2 separate regions of the Homo sapiens genome follow, and region 2 is linked to region 1. Evidence: fine-mapped expression QTL. A gene starts in region 1. The other region holds a variant in brackets. All regions are shown on one strand. Distances are between the middles of the regions.

Region 1 (8,332 bases):
ATCAACTTTGTGTTTCTAGAATAGAATCCATTTGCTTATAGTATATTTTAGCAATGCACTGCCAGCTTCTCTCTGTTAATAACTTCTCAATATTGATGCTTGCATAATCTTAAGTTTGAGGTTTCTTTTCAAATCATACATTCATCAATTTTGGTATCTTTATGCTATTTAATAAATAGAAAATTTTCCTCCTTTTAATTCCTCTGGAATTGTTTTTTCAGCTTTACTAAAGGTATATCTGACAATTTAAAATTGTGTCTAGGGAGTGGCTGGAGTGGCAGCTGGGCAGCAAGACTAACTCTGGATCCACCAGGCCAGGTGTCGTGTACAGAGGCTGGGGCAGCCATCCCCAACTCCAATGCCCAGTGCCCAGCACACCAGCACTTTCTGGTGATGTTGCACATTTATGGTGATTCTGAGTGTGGGAGCAGACTTCTGCCAGGCTTAGCACAGCATTTTCACCGACAAATGAGCTTTGAGGTTCTACGTGCTGTCATTAATACTACCTTGAAAACTCTAGACACCAAGACTGGCCTCAGAAATAGATACCTTTTTAAAAAAATTGCAAGTATATTTCTTTTAACGATTCCAGTAAAATTAAGCATCAAGTAAACAAAAGTGGAAAGTGACCTACACTTTAAACTTGTTGAACTAAATGTAATAAAGGCTGCTTAAGTTTTTTATGTCCTTGGATTTTTTGGAGTCCAGAGGTGTCCATCTGCAGAAATTGAGGCCCAAGTTGAATTTGGATTCCAGTGGATTCTGAACAATTCTGCTTATCTTGAAGACAGAAGCTTCATAAGGAATAGACAAGTTAAATAGAAAAAACACTGATCAATAGGCAGTTTAGTGATCTAAAAATAAAACATTAAAAAGTTTTCTGCTGTGAAACATTTCAAGATTTATTGATTTTTTTTCACTTTCCCCATTACACTCACACACATGCTCACACTTTTTCTTTGCCATAATGGACTGTTCAGCCCCTGTGGAGATTTACAGGAACATGCATTTTCTCATAACCCACAAGTCTACCAGTGCCACTGCAACAAGTTCACAGAGGAATGTGAGACGTGTGGAGTGACACCTTTGGTTTGAGTTTGTGATGCTACATTTGGTAAAGTTCCAGTTGAAAAAGAAGGAATCCATATTTTAGATTGGTCTTTTGACGATGAAGCTCCACCACCTAATCAGATAGCAGATGACTGGCTAAACCTGTTAATCACTAAAGGGCGTGAAAAGCCAGGTTGCTGCCTTGCAGTGCATTGTGCTGTGGGATTGGGAAGGGCACCTGTGCTGGCAGCGCTTGCTTTGAATATGGAATTAAGTATGAAGATGCAGTTCAGTTTATAAGACAAAAAAGAAGGGGAGCATTCAATTCCAAACAGCTGCTTTACTTGGAGAAATGCCGACCTAAGGTGCAATTACACTTCAGAGATACCAGTGGGCATTGCTGTGTTCAGCAGAAATGTAAATGAAGACCGGCTGGATTGTGGCATTTTAGAGGAACTCTTAGTACTTGGAAATGTGAATCTGGAGTCTTACCTGTATCATCCAAGTAGTGATAGACTCAGTACTCAGCCACTCTCCCAATAGCTGGAAAAATGCAAACAAAAAAAGAAATCCCTCTATAAAATCAATAAAATGTTTAAGAAAAGAAAAAAATGAGATAAAATTGTATCCAAGATGACAATGGGATCTTTATATATATATATATATATATATATCATTGTGAAGTGACTGACACAATCAAGCCAGTGAATGTATCCATCACCTCACATAGTTACCCTTTAGGTATGTGTGATTAGGGTATTTCAGGCTTACTCTAAGTGAATTTCAAGCGTACAACATATTATTAACTGTCGTCACCATGCTGTCCATTAGGTCTCCAGAATTTATTCATGTTATAACTGCAAGTTTGTTCTCTTTTTAAAACATTTGACCAACATCTCCTCATTTCCCCTACTTGCCACCTGACCTCTGGTAACCACTCTTCCACTGTTTCTATGAGTTCGACTTTTTAAGATTCCACATCTACGTGAGATCGTGTAGTATCTTCTTTCTGTATCCGTGTATTTCTATGTGTATTTCACTTTGCATAATGTCCTCCAGGCTCATCCATGTTGTAGTAAATCACAGAATTTTCTCCTTTTTTGAGGCCAAGTAATATTCTATTGTGTACGTATACTACATTTTCTTTATCTTTTGATAGATGCTTAGGTTGTTTCTACATCTTCACTATTGTGAATAATGCTGCAATGAACAGGGGAGTGCAGATATCGCTGAGATATCTTTTAATTTTATTTATTTTGGATATATACTGCTATGATTTGAATGTCTATGCCCTCTGAAAATTACGTTGCAACTAACCCCCATTGTAACAGTGTTAGGAGAGTGGGAAAGCTGCCTATGGCAATTGAGAGGTGGGACCTTTGGGAGGTAACTAGGATTAGATGAGCTCATGAGGGTGGGCATTAGTGGCTTTATAGGAAGAGAAAGAGAGAAATGGGCTCGGCTGCTTGATCCCCCTTCACAGTGTGCACCCTGGACTGACCTGGGGCTCTGCAGAGAGTCCTGCTAGCAAGGAAGTCCTTACCAGAAGTGTCCCTCAACCTTGGACTTCCCAGTCTCCAGAACTGTAAGAAATAAATTCATTTTCTTTATAAATTATTCAGTGTCAGGTATTCAGTTACAGCAATAGAAAATAAACTAAGACAGAAAATTGGTACTGAGGAGTGGGGCTGTTGCTAATAATAAATCCTGAAAATGTGGAAGTGGCTTTGGAACTGGGTAATGGGCAGAGTTTGGAAGAGTCTGGAGGAGCAGGTTAGAAAAGGCCTAGATTCTGGTGAGGGATTGTCTCAAAAAAAAAAAAAAAGAAGAAGAAGAAGTTGTGAAACCATGCCCCCAAATAGTTAAAGAAACCAGTGACTAACGAATTTTTTTTTTTTGAGATGGAGTCTCGCTCTTGTCGCCCAGGCTGGAGTGCAGTGGCGCGATGTCGGCTCGCTGCAATCTCCACCTCCCAGGTTCAAGCGATTCTCCTGCCTCAGCCTCCCGAGGAGCTGGGATTACAGGTGTGCACCACCACGCCCAGCTAATTTTTGTATTTTTAGTAGAGACAGGGTTTCACCATGTTGGCCAGGCTGGTCTCGAACTCCTGACCTCAGGTGATCTGCCCGCCTCGGCCTCCCAAAGTGCTAGGATTATAGGCGTGAGCCACCGCGTCCGGCTAACAGAAATTCTTGAGCTTACAGGATGGCAGATAAGAAACAGTTTGCTGAAACTCCGTTTGTAATATAATACAACTGGCTGAAATCAGTTGAAACCAATATAACCAAACGGAGTCCATGCAGAATGAGCTTGCTGATGTCGCAGCCTGAATTTCCACTGCACTTTTCACACTAACTCTACCTTAATTTGCACATGGGACCCAAGAAGAGGCTTGAAGAGACAACTGCACATGGTCGGGGACTTTCCAGACTTCCTTTTTCCTTCACCATTCACCTGTGAATCCCAGAATCCACCCTCTAAACCTTTTTTCACAATAGTGCTGCCTTAAGGGCAGCACAGAGAGATAGATTTGAACTAAACTCCTGTCACTTTGTTGGTCAACTCGCAATTAAGCTTTTCTTTTCTCAAACGCCTGGTGCCATAGTATTGGCTTCTGTGCACATCGGGCAATGAGGTCTTTTGCGTAGCAGTATTTGGATATCCGGTTTCCTCACGCTATTTATTGAAGCGACTGTCCTTTCCCCATCGTGTATTCTTGACACAAGATTAGTTGACTTGCCTAAGATTAGTTGACTGTATATGCATGGGGTTATTTCTGGTTTTTCTACGCTGTTCCACATTGGTCCATGCGTCTGTTTTTATGCTAGTACTTCACTGGTGAGTTCTACCTCTGGGAATAAATATAAGAATTCTCTAATCACTGGATGTTTGAAGCAATTCACTAAGCAACTCATTATGATGCTTTCTGGCAAAGGATCTCTGAATTTGTCTTCAAATTGTGGATAAAATTGGGTCAAATTTGGCCCATGTTGTCCTGGAGAATCATTTGTGTCACAAATTATCAAATTTATTAGTATAGAGCGGATTTTCATTCAATTTCCTATGTGTCTATGGTTATTTCTCTTTTTTCATCTCTCTCCTCCATCTCCCCGGCCCCATCTTGCTGTCATAAGCATCGTGACTTACCTATAATTCTCCCTACGACTCCAGTTATGGATCAACTTTACTTTTTTCTGTTAATTCTTACCTTCTTTCCATAAATATATTTAAATTTTTTCTGGTTTCCTCAACTGAAGTCAAACCAATTGAGTATTGGTGGGCCGGGCGCGGTGGCTCACGCCTGTAATCCTAGCACTTTGGGAGGCCAAGGCGGGCGGATTGCCTGAGCTCAGGAGTTCGCGACCAGCCTGGGCAACACGGTGACTCCCCGTCTCTACTAAAATACAAAAAAATTAGCCGGGCGTGGCGGCGGGCGCCTGTAGTCCCAGCTACTCGGGAGGCTGAGGCAGAAGAATGGCGTCAACCCGGGAGGCGGAGTTTGCAGTGAGCCGAGATCACGCCACTGCACTCCAGCCTGGGTGACAGAGCGAGACGCCGTCTCAAGAAAATATATATATATATTGGTGGATTCGGTTTCCCTTTATGTTTCTCAGAAAACCGTGTGAGCCCGTTTGGAGTCACTCCGTCTCCAAGCGACAGGCACTTCCGGACGCGGGGCACTGTGGGAAGTTGAGTTCGCGGGGCTCCTTCCTTCGCGCATGCGCACATGCACTCTTGGTAATGCTTGCAGGTGGCCCGTTCTTCCTCTTTGTCCTTCGCTGCCACGTGAGAGGGGAGTGTACGCGTGTGCGCGCGTGCGAGTGTGCGCGTGTGCAGTCCCCGACTCGTCCCGGCCCGTTCGGAGCCGCCCGGGAGCGCACAAAGGCCGACGGTTTGGGCGCGTGCGCGGGACACGGGGGACGGGCGGTGTCACGTGATCGCGAGGCCGCGGGCGCGCGGGCGCGACTCGGCGGCGGCGTCTTTTGTGAGTTCAGTGAGTTTATTGCGGGCCCGGCGCTGGGGGCTCCGGGAATGGCGGGGGAGGCGCGCGGGAGTGGCCGCGGGGAGCTTCGGCTTCAAGGCCCTGGGCGTCCGCGCGCGGATGCGGGTCTGGGGCGGGTTGGGGCTGGGCCGGGTCGTGAAGATGCCGTGGGCCGCGGAGCTGCGCGGATTCTGGGCTGTGGGGCGGGCACGGCCTTTCCGGAGGCGCCGCTCCTGGGCGTCCTTTCAGGCGGGCGTGGAGGCGCCAGCCTCGGGCGCGTTTAGCCTCGGGCGCGTTTAGCCTCGACCTCGGGCCAGCCCGCTTGCCGCGCCGTGGCCCTAAGGAGCGGCTGCCCTGCTGGACCGCATCCACCAGCAGCCTGGCTCTGCCGCTATCGAAGGAGGCTTTTAAAGCGCTGGGGTTACAGGTGTGAGCCACCATTCCTGGCCGTGTATTTTTTAATGGTTATATTTATTGACTGTTTTAAATTTTTTAAGTGACTTTTGCTTTTGGTATGGTGTAGCGAAATCTCCCCTCAAATTATACATATATTCATTCACCTGTGGTTTTTTTTTGTAGACATTCTTAGGGTTTCCATTATTTTAAAATTTAACCCACTGAAAGTAGTTGTATGAAATAGCTACGTTTATTTTCTTTCAAATATTCTTGTATTCATTAAATAATTTAATTTTACTGATGGCTTTGAAATGCTACATTTATTGCATGCTGACTCTTGCATATTTAGACAGTTTGCTTTTTTTCATCTGTATAACTTCTCTGGAGCCAGTGTCAAATGTTATAATGATTATAATTTGTATGTATTACAGTGGGCCTGTTCACACTCATTATTTTGTATTTCCAAAAGCATCCAGGCCCGGTGTGGTAGGGCATGCCTGTAGCCCCAGCTACTCTGTAGGTTGAGGTAGGAGGATCACTTGAGCCCAGGAGTTCAGGGCTGCAGTGAGCTATGGTTATGCCATTGCACTTCAGCCTGGACAACACAGTAAGACCCTGTCAAAAAAAAAAAAAAAGTGTCCGAATTGTTCTTGAACCTTTTTTCTTACACATAAACTTTAGAATTTTGAGATTCTGATTGGAGTCGATGAGTTATATAAATCATTTGAGGTCAAATTATCTTCACAATCTGAAGTCTTCCTATCCCAGAATAAAATCGAATTATAAATTTCTTTAATTCTATTTTTATAGTTCTCATTGGTGTTTTTAGTATGCTTCATATGGGTCTTGATATTCCTACATATTTTATGTATTTTGTCAATTATGAGTCGGATTTTATTTTTTTGTTATTTTATGTGAGTTGTTTATATCTTACAGAAATAAGGTTATTGACCTGGAAAGATGTTCTTCACATAATGGGAAAAAAACAAAAACAGCTTTTAAATATGACCATATGCTTCCATTGTATGAAAAATATCACAATAGTTTCCATCATCCTAAGAATGGTTACCTGTGGTGAGATCATAGATAATAGTTCTTATTTAGCTTGTGTATGTTTTTTATATTTTGCCATCATATATTACTTTTATAATAATAATTATAGCTAGTATATGTTTCGTATGACTGTGTGCCAGCTTTTGTTCTAAGATTTATGTATTATCACAATTTAAGGTATAAAGGAGTCATTTCTTGTATAACTGGGAGAAACTGCTGTGTGTTTCTGAGTTGGCACTGAAGTTTGAACCACAAAAAGGCATGAAAAAGAAAGTGCTGCTTGTTAGTGTGATACAGTTGAGGCAGGGCGTCCTTCATTTATATTTTTGTGGGAATTAGTGACTGAATGTGTGCATGGGAATAGGAGCTGACTCCAGGATTTATGTTGTGTGTGTTTGTGCATGTAGATATGCACAAATGACAATATGACTTTAGTATTCATGCTTTGAACATAGCAGGATAGAGAATTAACATTTGAATTTTGCTACTTACTAAATGTGCAATCACAGGCACATTTTACAATCACTCATTGTCCCAGTTTTCTCTCTGTAAAATGGAGATTATGTTAAACGCCTTATAGGGTTGTGCATGAGTTAAATTTAAAATGCTTAGTATATTGTCTCACATACAGAAAGCACTGGAATGTTAGCTGTAACTGTTATTACAAGGCCCCAGTCGCTTTCCTTTTAACACCTCATTTGTTTCTTAGACTCCCATTGTGAGGTCCACTTTATCTTCACCATTTTAGCAAGTACAGAAATTGAGGCTTTGAAGGCAAGAAAGGAGGGGGGAAAAACAGTAACCACAATAAACATTAAATGTATTCAATTTGTCAGTTAAAAGACACACTGTTGGTTTGGATTTTTTTTTTTTTTTTGAGATGGAGTTTCCCTTTTGTTGCACCAGGCTGGAGTACAATGGCACGGGCTGCAACATCCACCTCCCAGGTTCAAGCAACTCTTCTGCCTCAGCCTCCCAAGTAGCTGAGCTTACAGGTGCATGCCACCACGCCTGGTTTATTTTTGTATTTTTAGTAGAGATGGGGTTTCATCATGTTGGTCAGGCTGGTTGAACTCCTGACCTCAGGTGATCCATCTGCCTTGGCCTCCCAAAGTGCTGGAATTACAGGCGTAAGCCATCGCTCCTGGCCAATTTGGATTTTTTTTTTTTTAAACACCAATAAATTTGAGCTCTGAGCTGCTTATAAGGGACAAAGATAATGATGCTAAGATTTTTAGTGTAGTTGACCAGATGATAACATACCACGTAAATACCAAAAGAATGCTGAAGCCAGGTGTGGTGTTGTATGCCTATAATCCTAGCACTCTGGGAGGCTGAGGTGGGAGAATTGCTTGAGCCCAGGAGTTTGAGACTATCCTGGGCAGCATAGCGAGATCCTGTCTCTACAAAGAAAAAAAATACAAAAACAGTTAGCTGGGCATGGAGGCACACAAACCTGTAGTTCCAGCTACGTGGGAGGCTGAGGCAGGAGGATCCCTTGAGCCTGGAGTTCAAAGTTGCAGTGAGCTCTGATTGTGCCACTGCATGCCAGCCTGGGTTAGGGAGCAAGACCGTACCAAAAAAAAAAAAAAAAAAAAAGAATGCTGATGTTGCAGACTTCATCTAAGATAAAATAGATTTTAAGGCAAAAAGCATTATTGGGGGTATGAAGCGTTGTTACACAATGATTTTTTAAAACCCCTATTTAACCTTGACGCATCAAACAACATAGCCATAAGCATATAATCCAAACATCAGCAGAATTATAAGGAAAAACTGACCAATCTCTAGTCATATTGTGAGATTTTAACCCATTTCCTTCTGAAATGGGTAGACAAAAATGGCAGACAA
Region 2 (8,332 bases), 190 kb after region 1:
CACCACCACCATGCCCAGCTGATTTTTAAATATTTTTTAGTACAGATGGGGTTTCATCATATTGGCCAGGATGGTCTTGATCTCTTGACCTCATGATCCGCCTGCCTCAGCCGCCCAAAGTGCTGGGATTACAGGCGTGAGTCACTGCACCCGGCCAGGAGACCTTATTCTTTAAGATTAAAGTCTTAACAGCAAGATGAAGTAAAAAGACCCACAACCTCGGACCCTCAGCGTGAAATTTCAGAACTTTAAGACCCACCCCCCCAAAAAATAAGAAAAAAAGAATCTAAGAGCTCCAAAAAATTATGAGGGGGGGAAAAGCATTTCAACTCAGAATTCTGTCCTTGCAAAATTGTTAACCAAACTTGAAGACAGATTAAAGACATTTTTAGAACAAATGAGGACTCGGATAATTTATCTTGCAGGCACTCTTTCTTGCAAAGTTAACTGAAGCTGCTGGCTAACAAAACAAGGGAGTCAAATAAAGAAAGAACCAGACCTGAAATTCAGGACACCCTGGAGTAAACCCAGGGAAGCAGCATGGGAGCACTGGGGACAATAGCTTCACTCCAGGCCTAGGGAGCTGTCACTTGGAGGGGAAAGGGAAAATGGAGGGCCCCCAACAGTGAGTTTTCAGATGGGATGCTTCAAATGCTGGAAGATGTTAAAAATGTGATAAAAGCAGACAATGTAAAAAGAAAAAGGAAAGGCATGGAGAAGCTCCAAGAAGAAAAAAAAGCTGAAGAGAAAAGATGTATATACCCATAGAATATTAAATATAGGTAAATTTGGCTGGGCATGGTGGCTCACGCCTGTAATCCCAGCATTTTGGGAGGCTGAGGCGGGTGGATCCCTTGAGTTCAGGAGTTTGAGACCAGCCTGGCTAACATGGTGAAATGCTGTCTCTACTGAAAATACAAAAAATTAGCCGGGCGTGGTGGCAGGTGCCTGTAGTTCTACCTACTCGGGAGGCTGAGGCAGGAGAATCGCTTGAACCTTGGAGGCAGAGGTTGCAGTGAGCCGAGATCGTGACACTGCACTCTAGGCTGGGTGACAGACCAAGACTCCATCTCAAAAAAAAAAAAAAAAAAAAATGCTGGGCGTGGTGGCTCACGCCTGTAATCCCAGCACTTTGGGAGGCCGAGGCGGGCGGATCATGAGGTCAGGAGATCAAGACCATCCTGGCTAACAGGGTGAAACCCCGTCTCTACTAAAAAGTACAAAAAAATTAGCCAGGCGTGGTGGCGGGCGCCTGTAGTCCCAGCTACTCGGGAGGCTGAGGCAGGAGAATGGCGTGAACCTGGGAGGAGGAGGTTGCAGTGAGCCGAGATCACGCCACTGCACTCCAGCCTGGGTGAGCAAGACTCCGTCTCAAAAAAAAAAAAAAACAAAAACAAAAAAGAAAGAAAGAAATTTGGGTGAATTCATAGCTCCAGTTTCCTCCTTACAAAGTGAGAAGTCTCATGATTCTGGTGTACTGGATGGGCAAAATATACATCTAAATACATACTCTTTAAATGATTTTACAGCTTCAACGATAACTTAGAAGCTAAAATCATGGGATCTCTACTACAGGCTAAGGGGGGTGGACAAGCGGGGAGTCTAAGGAGCTCAGCCTTCTCTGCTGCACCCGGTGTTAATAGATAAATCAAGTGGACTGCAGTGGAGAGCACAGGGTGGCAGCTCTTTCCTTTCAACTCTTCCTCTTCAGTGATATGCATACATACACACACACACACACACACACACACACAATAAAACAGATGAGAAATAATCTGGGATGTTTGTGGGAAGAGTCTTTGTTCTGGCTACATTGGTTCCAGGTCTAATCAAATACCATGGGTTCAAGCCGTGTGGCCCTACCCACACTTCTATCCCCTCAAACAGGACCTGAGTAGTCACAGTGTCTGGTGCTGAAACTCATGGTCTGTCTGAAGTGGACCCACCTGTAGGGCTGGGATCTCCAAGGGTGGCAATGGACACAGCCACAGCGGTGTCTGCAGGGCCCATCATGAAGTCCAGCCCATGGCTGTGGACCAGCTGCCCAGTCTGGAAGGAAACTTCCTTGGAGGACGCCAGTGCAAGAGACATCAGCCAAGATTCAGGGGCAGCCAGAGAGGGGTTCAGCATGTCATTGCCAGCAGCCAGAGGGCAGAGGCCAGGGCCAGGGCAGAAGAGGGGGAGGGTGGCAGGATCATGGCCAGGCCCCTCCTGGTACATCTCGCCACCTGGCAGAGACCTGGGGGACATGGAGAACACTGTCTCTTGGTGGGCAGAGCCTCCCTCAGGGCAGGGCAGGAGGGAGCACAACGGTGCTCAAACAGTGCTGGTGTGCAGTAGGAACTCAAGAGATACTGGCTGGTATTAACTCAATGAAAAGCAAAACAGACAAAGTACTAGAAACAAACCACAGGGACAGCTGGGTTTGTCTTTAGGTGGCAGGGCTGCATGTGTTTCCTTCTAAGTCTGTTACCCCGTTCTCCAAGACAGACATGAACTCAGGTGATGAGTCAGGCTGCAGGAGCACGTGTGGGTTCAGAAGAAGCCACCCCCACCCCAGTCCCTGACGTGGGCTCCTTGCTGGTGGCTTCCCTCTCCCTGGGGTCTGACCTGATCCCAGTGTGGGGGTCCTGTCACCCTTAGGCCTACTTCATGCCCTAGTCTCCACCTGAGGAGGAAAGGGAACTGAATAGGTGAGATGATTCCATGGCCATGGAGATGACAGTACCTGACATCCAGTGGCTTTGAGACTGTCTCATCTGCGGGAAAGTCCGGGGCTAAGGCCAGTGGCTCCCATGGTCCTTGGGTGGTCTGTGGGGACTGTGGAGGCCCCTTTTCCTCACGTTCCTCTGAAAGTGATGAGATGGGAGGGGAGACTTAGTGAGGCTCTGGTTCCCAACCTCCTTCCCATCAGGTATGAGCAGCCCTGCTGGCTGGAAAAGGCTGTTGCCATGGGGCCATCCCAATGTTTTTGCTTCTTGTCCTGTCTTTGGTGTGAACCAACAATCCATAATTGCCAACCCAGGACACCCCAAATCCCGGTGCTTGGTTCACTTCTCAAATTGACTCACCAACTCCTCCTCTGGCCACACGATGCCCTCCTCTCCAGCCCAGCTCCTGGCCCGGCCACACAGTGACCTCAAAATGCATAGGGGCAGCCACAGCCCAGCCTGGGCATCTTGAGCCTCAGACCTCGGACCCTGTGATCTTGCTCCCACAGAGTGACACCTGGAACCTACTGATTGGAGGAGGGCTACCCCTGTAAGCAGTGTGACTACCTAGGCCTGGCCCTTGTCAGAAACCAGCTCCCCGACCACAAGGAGACTGGGGCCCTCAGGCCACTCACCTGACCACTGAGGCCTGTCCACAAACCCAGAGTCAACACGGGGGTTGCCTGAGGGCTGCAGGAGGTCAGGACCCCTCTCCCTCGCACCAGGGTCTTCAGCTGTGGCCTGCTGGGCTGGCTTCATGTGCTGGGGAAGGGCTCTTTGGCGGCGCCGGTAATTGGCAAACCAGTTGTACACCTGCTCAGGGGTCAAGCTCGTCTCCAATGCCAAGTTCTCCTGCCCCCAAACAACAAGACTTCTAGCCCTGCTTCCATTCCCTGAGGACAGGGGGTGTGCAGAAGTGGCTCAGACAGCTCATTTACACCAAGAAAGGGGGTGACAGCCCAGCCTAACCTCTCCAAGGACAGCAGAGAGCGGTGAGCATGAGCAGAACATGCAGGCCTCACCTCCCTGGGCTGATCCCCATCCCCTGAGCAGTGAGGCCCAGGTCAGGCTGTCTGCACAGCCACATGTGCACGTCCCCCTGAGTGGGGCCCTTGCTAGGTCCACCCAGACAACATGCCCAGGGCCACCCCAAGCCCCTGGAGGGGCAGGGCCTGCAGAACCACACTGCCTGTGCCTGGCACAAACCCACTGTGCAGTGGAGAGCATGTCAGCTGGCAGATGCCTCGACCCATCGTCCTGGTGCCTGGCACACAGTGGGTGCTGAGTGAGCAGCCGTGGGGCCACATACACAGATGTTATGACTCCACGTGAGAAAATGAAACCCTTTATGTGGCAGACAGGACAGTCTGCCAATCAACAAGGTCCCTGTCCAGAGGAGGGGCTGAAACCACCAGCACCCTGGCGGATGAGGCCACTGAGGAGCCTGGGGTGGGGGTACCCCTTGGGGGACAGGGAGGCACCAGGCAGGGACCCCCTGGGTCCTGGGTATCTTCTATTCTTACCCTCTCAGCCTTGCTGGGGTTGGTGTTCACCCCCACAGCGAAATTGTGCAGCTTCTCACGAACCTCTCTGGGGAAGTTCCGGCTCTTCAGCCCCTCTGGGCAGAGGGAGGGGGGCGGGGGGTTCCTGGGTAAGGACAGTGAGGAGGTGGTAACAGACAGGACCCCTCCAAATCTGTTCCCTTCTCCAGGCCTGGCCCTCTGCAGAAGGTGACACTTCCTTCCCTGTGCCTCCTCCTGGGGGATGCCTCTCTCTGCCTCCAGTTAGTGAAAACTAGAGTCTCTTCCACAGACATGCACAAACCCTGACAAATACTGTTCCAGAACATCTACAGGCCACTGTGAGGAGCCCTCTGTGGGCCCTTGCAGTGCTCCTGGGTGCATCTCAGCCCATGGAGCCCCGATGGATGGCCCTCCTGGACATCCTCACA[T/C]GTAGACATCCTCATCCATGGAGGCCGCGTGCACAGCCTTCCTCGTACTCACACACAGGTGTCCTCAGCCCATGGAGCTCCCGTGGATGGCCCTCCTGGACACACACACACACTGTTGTCCTCAGGACCTGGCTGCCACCCTGGGTGCTTTTCCATTCAGTGCTTTCTGTTCATCGCTGGTTTCCAGGCATCAGCCCCATTCTTGCATGAGTCCTCTGAGGCTTGCAGCACTCACACCCCTGCCACCCTGCATGGCCACGCCAGCTTTCTCCCTTCGTCTCTCACCCCCAAGACCTCCTCCCAAGACTTAATGTCCTTGGGTGATCTGGCTCTCATTTCACCAAGATGTTCTCAGAAGAGAAGCACCACCTGTGCCCCCAGCAAACCTGCCAGCCCTTCTGCACTCCCCAAATGCCTGTGGGGCCCCTGGTGAGGGGAGGCTCCAGCCGTGGCACCTGCTCATCCCCCATCTCACTAAGAACACTCCCCTGAACTAATTCCCTGCTTGCCATCACCAGCATTTCTTCTAGTAAGTCATTCTCATGAGCTGCTAAGCTCTGTAAATTTCTCACCTCCAGTGGTGATCCCATGAGTCTGCTCCAGTTCCAGCTAAACTTCTCAAAGAATGATCTTGGATCACTGCCACTGTCTCCTTGTCTCTGTGACACACCTGGATCCTTGCACCTTGCCACTAAAAGCACTTGCCCAGCTCACACAATCCGAAGTTCATTTCTCAGCTCTCCTCTTAACTGGCACCTCCTCAGCCTCACTGGCTTCTGAACTCTGCACTGCTGGATTTCCTCTTCCTCTCACTGGCCATGTCTCAGCTGAATCTTCCTCATCCTCCTCTGGGCTGCAAAGTCCCAGAGGTCTGTCCCCTGAACACAGAGGACCCCTTTCTCTGTGCGCTCCCAGGATTTCAGTATCAGTCACAGAGATGACAAAGGGATGCGTGTCTGAGCAATGCTGGAGTTGGACACTGGGGGTGTTCCAGCTGGTTATGCTCCTCTCTAGTGCTGAGCAGATTTGAATATTTCATAAGGAAAAGATGATATATGCACCAATATTACTTGTCTGTAGAAGGTGTGTCATCCCAGTGCCTACTTGGACATCTAAAATGCATCTCGCACATCATGAATCCCAAAAGAACTCCATCCCCCCTCTCCAGACTTTTCCCCAGCTCCTGTGCATCTCAGTGAAGGAACCCTCATGCTCCTGGTGGTTCCCACATAGGCCAAGAGCCCTGGAGTCTACTTTAGCCCTCTCTTTACCTCCTGCCATGTGTACAGCCCATCAGCAAACCCCCCAGCTCCACCTCCTGTGTCAGGGTACTGACACAACACTCTCCACTTTCCCCAGCCACGATCCCAGCCCTGGGCATGCCTGGAACCTCCTAGAAACTCCAGCATCTACTCCTGATCCCTGTATCTGCATCTTCTGTGACTCAGATGCCATCCCTTCCTGACACCACCCGGGAACCATCAGCATGGTCATAACCCAATCCAGCAGCTACCATGGCTGCCGGCTCAATGTCCTCCTGCTGCTCATCAGCCTCTAAGGCAGGGTGAGCGAATCCATTCCAACACCTGCTTTTACATTTTTCAAGGGCTGTGAACACATACACCCCAAAATACTTCCCATCTGCCCCTGAACACCAAGCTTCTCTGATCCCAAGTCTTTGAATGTGCTGCCCCTTCCCAGAAACTTCTGCTCACATGGCTGACACATCACCATACTCAAGACTCTCCTCCAAGACTAGGACCAGCCTGCACTGACCACCCCATCTAAAGCAGCCAACCTTGCACAGCCCTCTTCTGGACATATTCTCTGCATAGCACTTCTCACTCTCTGAATTATGTGACCTACTTTATTTTCTTGTCTGTTGACTATTGTCCACATCCCAATGTCAGTTCCATGGAGGCAGAGCCTGGCCTTCATCCCCAGCACCTCCCAGAACCCAGCAGGCAGGGGGTGCTTAACAAACATGTCGACAAGATGACACCACTGCACTCTGGCAGGTGTCAGCATGCCCGTGGGGGGCTACAATCACATCCCCTGAAGACCCCACAGCTGATTTACTGCTGGGCTTCTGACGACTTGTCTTACTCTGTCACTCTATTTGATGGGTACCACGCAAGAAAATTCTCTGAGCCCAAAAGGTATCCATGTCTTCTTCCTTCAGCGACCAGTATTCTTACCGACCAGGCCCTGTGGCTCAGGAATCTTTCATGACTTGGGCTGTCAGGAGTTCACAGCAAGATCTACAGCCCTTTCCTGACCAGTGGAGAGCACCTGAGATGAAGAATAAGGCTCCCCGGAGTTTGAGACCAGCCTGGGAAATATAGCAAGACCCTGTCTCTACAAAAAATTAAAAATTAGCTGGGCATGGTGGTCACAGCTACCTGGGGGGCTGAGGTGGGAGGATCGCTTGAGCCCGGGAAGTTGAGGCTGCAGAGTTGTGACCGCCCCACTGCATGCTAGTCTGGGCAACAGAGCAAGACCCTGTCTCAATTTTTTTTTTAAAGGCTCCAATTTCTCAGTGTCTGGGCTAGCGTCCTGGCTTTGCAACTCTCTCTCGTGTGGAACCTCAGGTTACCCTTTCTGTGCCTCCGTTTCCTCATCCATAAGTGGTGATGATGGTGATAATAAAAATTACTAGTAACATTTATTTAGTGCTGATAATGGTGGCGATGATAAGGACTACCACTTATTTAGTGCCTATCATGTGCCTGGCACTATTCTGAGCGCCTGACATGTAACTCATGCTAACACTGGCAACATTCTCACCCTTAACTCTTTGAAAGGCCTTGCAACCCCTCAGTGGCCACCCAGAGCCCAGATTGTGGGGATTAGATGACCTGGGGACACATGTTGAGCTGTTCCCACCTGCCCTCCATCTCCACTGTCCCTGGCCCAATAGCCCCCTTTCTGGCCAGTCCCTGGGTGGATGCTGGGCAGAGATGATGAGGATGCCCACCTCCTGGCCTTAGCCTCAGTCACCCTGTGGTCAGCCATCCGTTTCCAGCCATCAGCTGACTGAAGTGGCTGGTGGAGAGTGTAGCTCAGTGACCAGCATCCAGCACAGGTGTGACACACACTGAAGTCATCTTATGCTGACTACACTGTGACTATTACTGCTCCGGCGGACATTTCCTGTCCCTATCTCCTCACCTCCACTTTGCTTCAGCCCCTCTGGGCTTTGCATGGTACATCTAATCCCTTGGGATCCCCATGAAATATGCACAAGTAAATGCTTGTAGGTTACCTCTTCCTGCAGCGGAACTTCTGCACCGGGGTGAGCGCAGCCACGCCCAGCCTCCTCATGACCAGACGGTAGTGGATGTCGTTCCAGAGCTGCACTAACTCCTGGCTGCCTCCCGGCACCTGGCACCCCTGCCAAGAAGAGTGTACTGAGCCCTGGCCACCTGCCCACCCTGGAGCACTGTTGGGACCTGCATCTGCCATCCCAAACCGACTCAGCCTTGGGGAAGGCAGTGATGGGAAGAGCAGGGTTCTGGGTTCAAATTCACTGATTTTACAAAGTGCCAGTGTGGCCACACAATGCAGGCATGAGTCAGATGGCCCCCGCTCCATTCCTAGCAGGCTCAGCGGTGTGACCCTAGGCCTGCCAGGTCACCTCATAGACCTTGGGCAGATGCACTCACATCAG

Alleles and levels. Positions count from the first base shown, and alleles are read on the strand shown. Sizes are in standard deviations (SD) of each study's normalised expression.
In carriers of allele C in region 2, the expression in whole blood of the gene that starts at base 4,999 in region 1 tends to be lower than with T alone (small effect, 0.40 SD a copy in Lepik 2017).

What was found. PIP is the estimated chance that this variant, and not a neighbour inherited with it, causes the effect. A credible set is the group of variants that fine-mapping cannot tell apart.
Region 2: its variant is the best candidate, but not a certain one, in a credible set for the expression of ZNF84 in whole blood (Lepik 2017, PIP 0.74).

The regions. Positions count from the first base shown.
Region 1 is chr12:133,032,511-133,040,842 of GRCh38, forward strand. It overlaps ZNF84 (zinc finger protein 84), which reads left to right and starts at 4,999. Exons shown (of 5, transcript NM_001289971.2): 1 at 4,999-5,035. It overlaps ZNF84-DT (ZNF84 divergent transcript), which reads right to left and starts at 4,712. Exons shown (of 3, transcript NR_110091.1): 1 at 4,259-4,712; 2 at 1,543-1,593; 3 at 149-794. It also overlaps the pseudogene PTP4A1P2. RefSeq lists an enhancer at 4,616-4,705 and a silencer at 4,926-5,105.
Region 2 is chr12:133,223,590-133,231,921 of GRCh38, forward strand. It overlaps ANHX (anomalous homeobox), which reads right to left. Exons shown (of 10, transcript NM_001372060.1): 3 at 7,928-8,055; 4 at 4,235-4,358; 5 at 3,347-3,563; 6 at 2,729-2,849; 7 at 1,947-2,239. Among named protein-coding and RNA genes, the nearest start is that of ANHX, 8.1 kb to the right of the region's middle. The variant T/C (reference allele first, on the strand shown) is at 4,663.